Regions from separate parts of the Homo sapiens genome. Here region 1 is linked to region 2. Evidence: fine-mapped expression QTL. Tissue or cell type: whole blood. Region 2 holds a variant in brackets; the other region holds the start of a gene. All regions are shown on one strand. Distances are from middle to middle. Region 1 holds the start of ZFAND3 (zinc finger AN1-type containing 3). Region 2 overlaps ZFAND3 (zinc finger AN1-type containing 3).

The links. PIP is the estimated chance that this variant, and not a neighbour inherited with it, causes the effect.
Region 1: it holds the start of ZFAND3, and the variant in region 2 is fine-mapped to the expression of ZFAND3 in whole blood (TOPMed, PIP 0.91).

Annotation. Positions count from the first base shown.
Region 1 is chr6:37,817,337-37,822,713 of GRCh38, forward strand. ZFAND3 (zinc finger AN1-type containing 3) reads left to right here and starts at 2,391. Exons shown (of 6, transcript NM_021943.3): 1 at 2,391-2,680. The coding sequence starts at 2,610. ZFAND3-DT (ZFAND3 divergent transcript) reads right to left here and starts at 2,051. Exons shown (of 2, transcript XR_007059569.1): 1 at 1,242-2,051; 2 at 1-1,154. RefSeq lists enhancers at 1,598-1,987, 1,957-2,759 and silencers at 2,038-2,417, 2,458-2,687, 2,848-3,017.
Region 2 is chr6:37,901,263-37,906,639 of GRCh38, forward strand. All of the region lies in intron 1 of ZFAND3 (zinc finger AN1-type containing 3), which reads left to right. Among named protein-coding and RNA genes, the nearest start is that of ZFAND3, 84 kb to the left of the region's middle. The variant C/T (reference allele first, on the strand shown) is at 2,415.

The DNA of each region.
Region 1 (5,377 bases), 84 kb before region 2:
TGAATGCTACATTTTATTAATCCTTTTAGTCTCCAGAGTGCTTAGCAAAGTCCTTGTGTATACTGGGTACTGAATAAATGTTTGTTGAATAACTGGCAAACAGGAAAGCAGTTTGGAAAATGACAATCACTTTTTATGTTGAATTCTCCTTTTAGTTGTCGAGTTTCCTTTTCTGTACATAAAAGAAAATCATCAAGATGCCAAGAGAGATAATCCCACTTAATCTTTGTTAAACTCAAAGGCTGTTAAGTATCTCACGCATGTGGGAATTTTATGTCGGCTTAAATGAAGATTTAAGGGTAATATGAATCCAATGAGAGCAAGGTGTGCTGTATGGCTTTATCCTTTCTATGCATTTTTTCTTTCTTTCTTTCTTTTTTTGAGACAGAGTTTCGCTCTCGCTCTTGTTGCCCAGGCTGGAGTGCAATGGCATGATCTCGGCTCACTGCAACACCCGCCCTCCGGGTTCAAGCGATTCTCCTGCCTCAGCCTCCCAAGTAGCTGGGATTACACGCGTGCCACCATGCCCGGCTAAGTTTTTGTATTTTTTTTTTAACTAGCGACGGGGTTTCACCATGTTAGCCAAGCTGGTCTCGAACTCCTGACCTCAGGTGATCCACCCGTCTTGGCCTCCCAAAGTGCTGGGATTACAGACGTGAGCCACAGCGTCCGGCTTTTTCTATGCACTTTCTTACAGATATACTTATTGAAGGCTTTGGAAAATCCACCAAATTAAAACTAAACATTGTGCATAATAAATCAGCACTCACATTTTAGGGTGTTTTGGCTTTAAGTGCTTGATTTTTGCAATCATTAACTTCACCATCAACAGCATCTGTGGCATATTAAGCTAAATGCGATCCTTGCTCTTTAGAGGCCAAAATAAACATCAATGTTAACAAACCCACACAGTATGCACAAACAGAAATGTGATTTGGTATATAAAGAAATAAGATAGCAACATTTGGTAATCAAATTAATCTAGGTAATAGTCTCTCTGAGGCTCTGATATACCCGACAGGCAAGGAGGGTATACGGCAGCTATTCCTAAGAGCCAGGAAGTCTTCCTCAGCGATGGGTCTCCAAAAGGTCTGGAGGATGTTGCCTCCGTGTTGAATTAGTCATCAATAATCGATTTCTCTGTTCATGACTAACTGGAGATCAGAATGAGCTCAGGATCAAGGACTAGGATCGTTAAAGGACTCATTTTTTTAGTGTCTCAAACTTCTTTGGTCACTTACCAATTTCCATTACTGATTCAGCTACAGCTCCCCTTTCCCCTCCAAAAACCAAACGTGTCAGCTGTAGGAAGAAGTGCGGCTCTCCTAGCCTGGGCATAGGGACTCGCCTGGGCATAGATAATGTACTTGTGGCTCTGTGGTTGGGAGTGGAGACAAGGAACTCCCCAACACCGGTGGGGGAGAAGAGACAAGGAAGTTGCCCCAGACAAGGGGCTGGGGGAGGGGCATTTCCCAAAAGTTCCTGTCAAGAGACCAGTATACCGGGTGGAACTATAAGAGTTGTTTGGGTGTGGCGGGACCAGGAAGAGAGAGAGAGATGCCCAGGGAGTTGGCAAATTGGGGAGAATGGCTCCCCGGAATCGCCCAGGAGCCAGAGCGGCAGCTCCAGGGACCTTGACTCCGACGCCCCCGGGAAGCCAGAGCTCCACTTCCGCGTTTGGCATTGCTCCCCCAGGCCCCTCCTCGCACTCGGTTACGGGTTCTACGGGCGCATGCGCCGCCACTCTGGGACTGGCCCAATTTACCCTACACAACTAATCTGCTCCTCCCCCTCCCGCTTGGAGCGCACCATTCGCGTTTAGGGGGAGGCACCGCGCCCCGGAGTACTCAGAAACCTGCTCCCCTTCTTCAGACAGGGGGAAGATAAGTTTGCTTCAGATTCTAAAAGTTCTAAGAATACGAAGGCCTCAGCCGCCCGTCGCCGGGCGACAGCCCGAGGCTCTCGTTTTCTCCCACAGCCCCGCACTCCGCCTTTGAGGCGCGGAACGAAGTGGCACGCCCGGATCCCAGCTGATCAGCGGCTGGGCTTTGGCGTTGGCTCCCCCGGGCGAGACCATTGTGACTCCTCGGGAGGGGCGCACGCCGGGGAGGGGGCGGAGCGGCCATTGTCCGGTCAGCGCAGCCTCCGGGGGAGGGGACGGTGTTACGGAGACAGCAGGGCCCGGGGCTTCAGAGCGGCCGCTGCGACTCCGGAGCCGGCGGGGGGCTCCGGTCCTTCCCTGCGCCACCGCACAGGACATCTCTCTGGCTGGGGAGCGGCGGTGAGACCCGCCGAGGGCGTCTGTGTCCCTCCTCCCCCGCGGTCCTCGGTGCGTCCGCACGCCCCTCCTCCTCGGCTCCCTCCTTCTTCTCTCCGCGCCTCTCCGCCCCCTCCCCGTCTCCGCAGGCCGAGTGGTGCGGCCCGCCTCCAGCTGACCGGCCTGGAATCCCGGCTCCGAGCCCCGGACTCGCGCCCGCCCGCGCGCCCGCTCCTTCCCCCTCCCCCCGCCCCGAGCCCCCCGACGCCGCCGCCACCGCCTCCTCAGAGCGGGGCCCGGGCCCAGCCGCCGCCACCGCTGCCGCCGCCGAGCTCCGCCGCCGCCGAGCACCATGGGAGACGCTGGGAGCGAGCGCAGCAAAGCGCCCAGCCTGCCGCCTCGCTGTCCCTGCGGCTTCTGGGGGTAAGTGCCCGGCCGGGTGGGGGCGGGGGGCGGGGGCCGGGGGCGCAGACGCCAGGGCAGCCTGGGCAGGCCTCGGGGCCCGGGAGGCCGGAACCTTGGAGGCTGGGCCCAGCCCGGGCCTACGGGGAGGGGGTGGGGGTCGCGTTCCGGGGAGGGGTGCCGGGTGGGGAGCTGGGGGTGGGCAGAGAAGGCCCTGCCGGGGGTGCGTTGCTACCCTTTGGGACTCGCCGGCCTGAAGCTCGGGCCCACGGGGGCCTCCTGGGCCACGGGTGAGGGGGGCAGGGCGGCGGGGAGGGATGAGGGGGCGGCGTTGACCGCTCCGGGAGGAGCAGGGGTGCCCCTTCCGTGGGCATGTGGAAGCCAGCCCTTCCTCCCTCCCGGGGCGTGAGTTGGTGCCCAGGCACTAGGAGGGTATTTCCTCTGACTTCTTCACCTCCCCTCCTCCCCGTCCTCCGGAGACTTGCATCATCACTTCCTAGATTATATCCCAGTGCCCCATTTGCTTTTAGGAAGCTATTCACACGTCACCCGTTTGTAAAAACCGAGTCCAGAACCAGGCTGGGGTAAAGTTATAAGATTGTTGAGGTCTCACCTTCATGTAAAACACGTTTCAGGAGATATGTAAAATTTCCTTGTCAAAAAGGAAGAAAAAAACCACACAAAACCTGAAGTCAGCCTGGATTGGGGAATATGAGATCCAGTTTCCTCAGTTGGCTCTCAAATTCTCCTCTTTCTCAATTTAAGTAAAAATGATAAAAATGTTGACAGTGGGTAGCATATATTGTTTGGCCATCATGTGTTAAGGCGAAAAAAATGTGAGGTGGGAAATCAGCTCCTCTTCCTCCCCCCATTACTGTTTAAATTCTCCTGGTAACACTTTAAGCTTCATGGATTGCCACCTAACAGGTGCCTCCATCATACCACATGACTGTAGTTCTGCAGTAAGAAAGCTGGAGACTTTGAAGGCTGGCTTTTGTGATTTGAGTCCCTTTTCTCTTTTATCGTTTTGTTTTAGTTTTATTTTTTGAGAGATTCCGTATATTTGGAGACATAGAGGCAGGAAGGAAGATTGTTTCTGGTGAGGACATCTTGGGAAGAAGTATGGAAGTAGTTTTCCCTTTGCTATCTCCCATATTGTAGGAATGGTTAACAGAAATTAAGAGTAATTTTGGGAGTGCAGAGAAAGATTAGAAAGTGGATCTTAATGTAGACTTCTGTGGAAGTTGTCGTATCTCAAGGTTATGACAAAGAAGTGGATTTTCATTTTCTCATTTTTCTGCCTTTCTCAAAAATTTCCCTGTGGAAGGACATTAGTCAAAAATAAGTTGTGGCATATAAAAAGTCCTAAAAATGTGAAAATATTTCTAGTCTTCCCTTCATTTTGATTTGAAAATAATTGGTTTGCCTGTGAAGTGCTTTCATGGACTGTCTAATTCCCACAAGAATCTTGCGAGGTAGGAACCATTATCTCATTATTAGCTGGGGAAACTGAGGCTTTGGGTGGATAATTTGCCGCTTCACACAGGGAGTGTAGGGTGGAGCTGGTGAGCTCTTTAGAGTGCGTAGTACCATCATGTTTATGGTATCAGTCTGCTGCCCTGGAAAAATCTTGTGTCACAAGCCTCAGATTGTAACTCATTGTAAGACATATGTCCTAAAGAAAGTCGCTGCCAGTGGCAGCTAATGCTCAGGATGTATCAGGTCTCTTTCCTGGCAACACGTTTATGTCCTTCGGACTGTTACCATGAATGGAATCTTTATCGAAAGACTTATATCAAGGCTTAGAAACTAAGGAAATGGAATAGCCTTTTACCTTTATTTATTTATTTATTTTTGAGTCGGAGCCCTGCTCTGTTGCCCAGGCTGGAGTGCAGTGGCGTGATCTCGACTTACTGCAGCCTGCACCTCCCGGGTTCAAGCAGTTCTCCTGCCTCAACCTCCCAAGTAGCTGAGACTGCAGGTGCACACCACTATGTCCGGCTAATTTTTGTGTTTTTTAGGAGAGACGGGATTTTGCCATGTTGGCTAAGGTGGTCTCAAACTTCTGACCTCAGGTGATCTGCCTGCCTTGGACTCCCAAAGTGCTGGGATTACAGGCATGAGCCACCGCGCCCGGCCAGCCTTTTACCTTTAGCCGGTAGGGTTCTGATAATGCCAATAGAGTTTGGTGGCAGCAGACAGGAAAAGTTACACTAATGTTGTACTTGACCTATAAGCAACCAGGGCTTCTTTTTAGATATTTTCAGTCTGATACTTTTTATGAACTTCAGTTTACCTAGCAGGAGTAGTGACCACAAAACTAGTATTTTTATCGTGAAAAGTGTTCTTTTTGGTGCAATGTTTTAACCTTTCCTAAGGACGTTTGTAGACAATTGTGTAGTTTGTATTTTATACCAAAGCATAGCAACATTGCCGCCTTGTTTCCATCGTATCACAACTGACTTTGGACATGTTTCCCTTACTGTATGGGCCACATTCATATTTTGTTCACTGAGTAAACTTAGAATATATTTAACAGATATTTGAATGCCTGTGATATAATGGTGGGCAAGGAGGTGCTGGCCCCATACTCTGGGGCAGGGGGCACAGGGAAGTAAACTGACAGTTGCAATACGTTGTACAGGTGCTCTAGGGGAGGGGCACCTACCCTAGCTGGGGTGGAGGTAGAGGAAAGTAGCCTGGAGAAAGTGACACTTT
Region 2 (5,377 bases):
CAAGGGAGATTTGAGTGGTAAATGGGTAAGAGATGAAAAGTTATCAAATCCAGAAAAACCTTTTACTGTTATTTTAAATCATGAACAAGGCTGTGTTGGCCAGGTGTGGTGGCTCCCGCTTGTAATCCCGACACTTGAACTGAAGTTCGAGACCAGCCTGGGCAACATGGTGAAAACCCTTCTCTTGAAAAATACAAAAATTAGCGAGACGTGGTGGCACACACCTGTAGTCCTAGTTACTCATCAGGAGGCTGAGGTAGGAGGAGGATTGCTTGAGCCCAGGAGATTGAGGCTGCAGTGAGCCGACATTGTGCCACTGTGCTCCAGCCTGGGTGACAGAGTGAGACCATGTTTCAATAACAACAAAAAAAGGATGTGTTTGTCTTTCTAATATGGAAATGAAATCATCAATTACTAACTTCCAGTATGTTTCAGTTAAGCCTTTTAGAGGGGCTTCAGCCTTTTGAATGAAAGCAGTGAGGTTGAGTGAAGGTTTGATACTCACTTCCATGTTCTGTTTGCTGCATCTGAACCACTAGCAGACTGACTTGAGGTTTCTCTCACAAAAGCTGAAGGGATTCACAGGTGCTTAGGTTAAGTACTGGAGAGACCTTCTTGCTGAGGCCTTTAACAAAATTGCAAAAGACAAAAGTAATTTAATTCCTTACTTGGTTCTCTGGTGCTGTATATAAAACCAATTGACATGTAACACTTGTAGCTGTTGAGGGTTAATTTTAAATATTCTGTTAGTTTGTTGAGTGTCCTCTGGTAATTCTGTTTTTAAATTCAGCGTTTGTATTTGTATATTTGGAAAGTATAGATACTGCCTGCAAAGGGTAAAGGTGGGGTTAATTTGGAATCTGAATATAAAATATTTGTTATAAAATGAATATAATAGCATTATGGCCAGGTACAGTGGCTTACTCTTGTAATCCCAGGACATTGGGAGGCCAAGCCAGGAGGATTGCTTGAGCCTAGGAGTTCAAGACCAGCCGAGGCAACATGGTGAAACAAAAAATACAAAATTATTGTATTTTGTATTTTTAATACAAAAATTAGCTGGGCATAGTGGCACATCCCTGTAGTCCCAGGCACTCGGGGGGCTGAGGAAGGAGGATTGCTTGAGCCCAAGAGGTTGAGGCTGCGGCTGTGGTGAGCTGAGATGATACCACTGCACTCTAGCCTGCCATGCACTCTAGCCTGAGTGGCAGAGTGAGACCCTGTCTCAAAACACCACCACCACCACCAAACAAACAAAACAAATATAACGTTAGTAAAAATTATAAAAGAAAATGTTGTTCATATCTTTTCAGGTGTGTTAGACCCTTCTAGTTCTTGTCTGTTGCTTCCACATCTGTTTCCAATAGCTGTAATCATGAATTAGATCCCATTTCCTTTTTTAAAAAAGTAATTTTAATTGAATGTAGACTTTTTCTTTTCAGATAGAGATGCAGCAGCAAGCTTCTTTTACTTACTTTTTTTTTTTTTTTTTTTTTTTAAGAGATGATGTCTCACTATATTGTCCAGGCTGGACTTGAATTCCTGGGCTCAGGTGATTCTCCTGCTTCGGCTTCCCAGGTAGCTGGGACTATATATAGGCATGAGCAACTGCACTGGCCATGTCCCATTTACTTAACATTTTACAAACATTACCCTATGTTGTTACTTAGTTTGGAAGTAGTTTCATAGATGATTTTAAATAGTAATAATTTCAGAGTAACATAAAGCTGGAAAATTGGCAAAGCATGTCAAGCTGTGTGCAGTAATTTAGGATGGATCCTTACACTTCTCTAAAAAGTATTCATTTTTAAAAGGTTGCTTTGATCACCAGTCTTGAAAGTTTTGAGAGTCTTTATTGGTACATAATGAGAATTTTTAAGCTTAGAAAACCAATTTTGTGTTAAAACTTCTTTATTTATTGGGTAGACTTGTATCAGAATTATAATTACCTGTATAATTGAAAAATCCTATAATTTAAGGTGTAAATATTTAAGCTTTCTAGTTAGAGTCACCAACAAAATATATAGGAATATTTAATTTCTTCTTTGACACGTGAAATATTCTGGCAAGCTTTCAGACTAGTAGAACAGTTTCCAGAGATTGAATAAAATTGTTTATCACTAATTTACTGGTCATCTAGATTACCACATTGGTTTTCTGGGAACTTCATCATTCAGGGGCTAATCATCCATTTTCTGAATTTTCTAAATTACTGTCAAAGCGTCTCCTATCTACTGTATCACCTTTCTTGCTACCAAGCTTTTACTTACAGCGCATATTCCGTTTAGTAGAGTAAGATGGAATAGCAAGAGTATGTAACATTGACCCTAGGTCAGTGGTCTGTGGTTCTTGGGTGGGAGAGATAAAGGAGGTTTAACAATTGAGAATTTCAAAGTCATCAGTGGCAGAGCACG[C/T]GCTCTAATAGCATGAATAATTTAATCATAACTAAGGTAGGACTGATGAAAATTTTAAACGTGCAATTCATAAAAATGTGCTTGCTTTTTAAAAATTGTTTTCCATAAATAAGTTGGAATCTATCCTCTGTACCTTGTAAGTTGCTAGCTGCTATTCTAAACAATAGTCCCTTTATGAGGTGAGAGGTTTTTGTTCTGTGGATATTCTCAAAGGGCAATATGACGAAATTCTGAAATAAAGGGACAGATTTTCTTTAAAAAGAAACAAACTACTTGGCCTGCTTGGAAAGGAATAAATAACTATAGCCTACAGTTTTTGCTTTTCTGGAATGCCAAATTTCAGCTCAGAGCAGATTCTTCAGCTGAGCAATAAACCTTTGAAAATTGCTTTATAATGGAAATGCTGACAGACCATTAACTATAGTGGTGCAAATGTGCTGCTCTGACATACATAAGGTTGTCCCAAGTTGCTAAATAGAATAAACCATGTTGGGCAGTGTACATCCTGTGGAAGCCTATGTGGGTGTATACAGTTTGTCATGTTATGCCACCTGATTATTAATGGGCGAAGTTCCATCATATCACCTTTGACATGCAGCAGAAGTACCGTTTTAGAAGGAAGGAGTGGTTTAGGCTCTGCTGATGCTGATAGCTCATTTTATATTTGCTATACTGGAAAAGGCCCAGGGTAAATTTAACATGATGCATTTAATCACCATTCCAATCACAGTGCCACTGAAGCAAATCAATGTTTTCTTACTACCAATTCATTGGAACTTCCAGGTCATAAAGTATCATTATTAGGCATATTGGAAAGTCTCAGCCCAATGAAAATGTGGATTCTGGGATTTTCCAGTTGCTTTGAAATAGTGACAGAGGCTGCCTGGCTGTACATTTTCCCCATGTATAATGAAAACTGGAATTTAAAGGGATTGATACGACAAAGCAAGAATTATATAATGACCTAGGGAAGGATGAAGCAGAATGTTCACTTCTAAAAGCAAAATAAGGAAAATGATGAAGAGGGGTGATTATTTCCATAGTAGCCTGCTTAGTGACTCATGTCCCTGCTAATAATAAGTATTGTGAGAATGTGTCTTATTCTTGGCTATATTCACAGCGCCTAGAACAGTGCCTGGCACATAATGTGGATGTCAGTCAATGTTGGATTTACTTGTGCTTGTTTATTTAAAAACTATTTGGGGTTAGATTGTCAGGAACCCTGCTACATGTTGTGTAAGGCTTCTAGTGTGTACGTGTGTGTATTTCATATAATACATTTATGTGTATGAGCAGTTGGAATTGATCACTAAAATATTTCTTAAAGGTAATATAAGTACAATTTGGTATGTTGAGTATCATGAATGAATCAATGCAAAGATTCAAGTATCTTTGGGTAGAATCATGTCCTTTGAAATGTCAGTGTACAGTAAAAAGGTCTGACATCATAACTAGATTATAAATCCTATACTCTTGTACTCCAAAGTCAGTATAGTTGGACTGGCTTGTATGTCCTGTTTGACAAAATATAAATTTTACTTTCCTGTGGCAATTCCCAAACTGGGCTGACCACTTGGACTTTTAAGAAAATGTAAGCACTCTTGGGCATTGACCCAACGATTTTCATTCACTAGATCCTGGGGTGGGGCCTAGGAATCTGTGTTTTTTAATAATTTCCTTTCTGTAGGTGTTTACATATAGTCAGTTTCTCTGCTACCCACCTTTCATGATATACTTTGAAATTTGGTGACAATCACCTTGGACCTTTTGGGTTCTCTGGAAATGGTAACCAGTAAGGTAATTAATAATTAATATCTTATACTGGTAGAGGGAAAGAAATGCTAACATGTGTCATACTAAAGATCTTTTAGGACTAGTGCTGACTTTCTGTTCATATATTTCACTGGAAAGCTATTGTCAGGACATTTTGCGGAAGGTGTTTTTTAAAATGTGGCATATTCATAGAGTTGTATTGCTGGAAGTTACCTTAGAAATCATTTAGCTTATTCCCTTTTATATTTGAGTTAATCTTAAAAATGTTAGGGTTAGGGTGTACCACTTATTAGTTAAGTTGCCTCATTTCTCTTAGCCATGGTTTCTTAAGCATAAGATGGGAATGATAATACCTACCTACCTTATAGTTTTTTTTAAGGATTTAACTGAAATTCAAAAAAAGTTGCTAGCATACATCTTGTTTGTAGCAGTGTAGCAAGTGTTCAGTAAATGTTTAATATTTTGACATACCTATAATATGATCTATGGTATACATAAAAGCCAAAAGAGGTAGAAAAAGTTATAGTAATTAAGTTCAAGTTAAAAATGTTGTACACCCACAGGCAGAGTTTTATTTTTAAATTATGGTATAATACTTACACAATACACCATTTTAAACCATTTTAACCATTTTTAAGTAAATCATTCAGTGGTGTTTAGTACAGTCAGTGTTATGCAGTCATCACTGTCTAGTTTGAGAACATTCTTATTACCCCAAAAGGAAACCTGTACCCATTGAGGAGCCACTTCCTATTCTTTTCTCTGTATCCGCTTGCAGCCACTAATCTATTTTTTGTCTTTATGGATTTGTTTATTCAGTCTCTTTCATATGAGTGAAATAATAAAAAATGACTTTTCACTGTATAATGTTTTCAGGGCTTATCCGTGTTGTTGTGTGTATCTTACTGCATAACTTCCATTTTTTTTAAATGACCGAATAACATTCCATTGTATGGATATAACAGCCTTGTTTATCCAGTAATCAGTTGATAGACATTTAGGTCCCTTCCACCTTTTGGCTGTGTGAGTGGAGCTGCCACGAACATGCATGTATAAGTTTTTGTTTGAACACCTATTTTCACTTTTTGGGTATACACGTGGGTGTGGAATTGCTAGGTCTTGTGGTAATTCTATGTTTAACTTACTGAGGAAGTCCAAACTGTTTTCCACAGTGGCTGCACCATTTTACA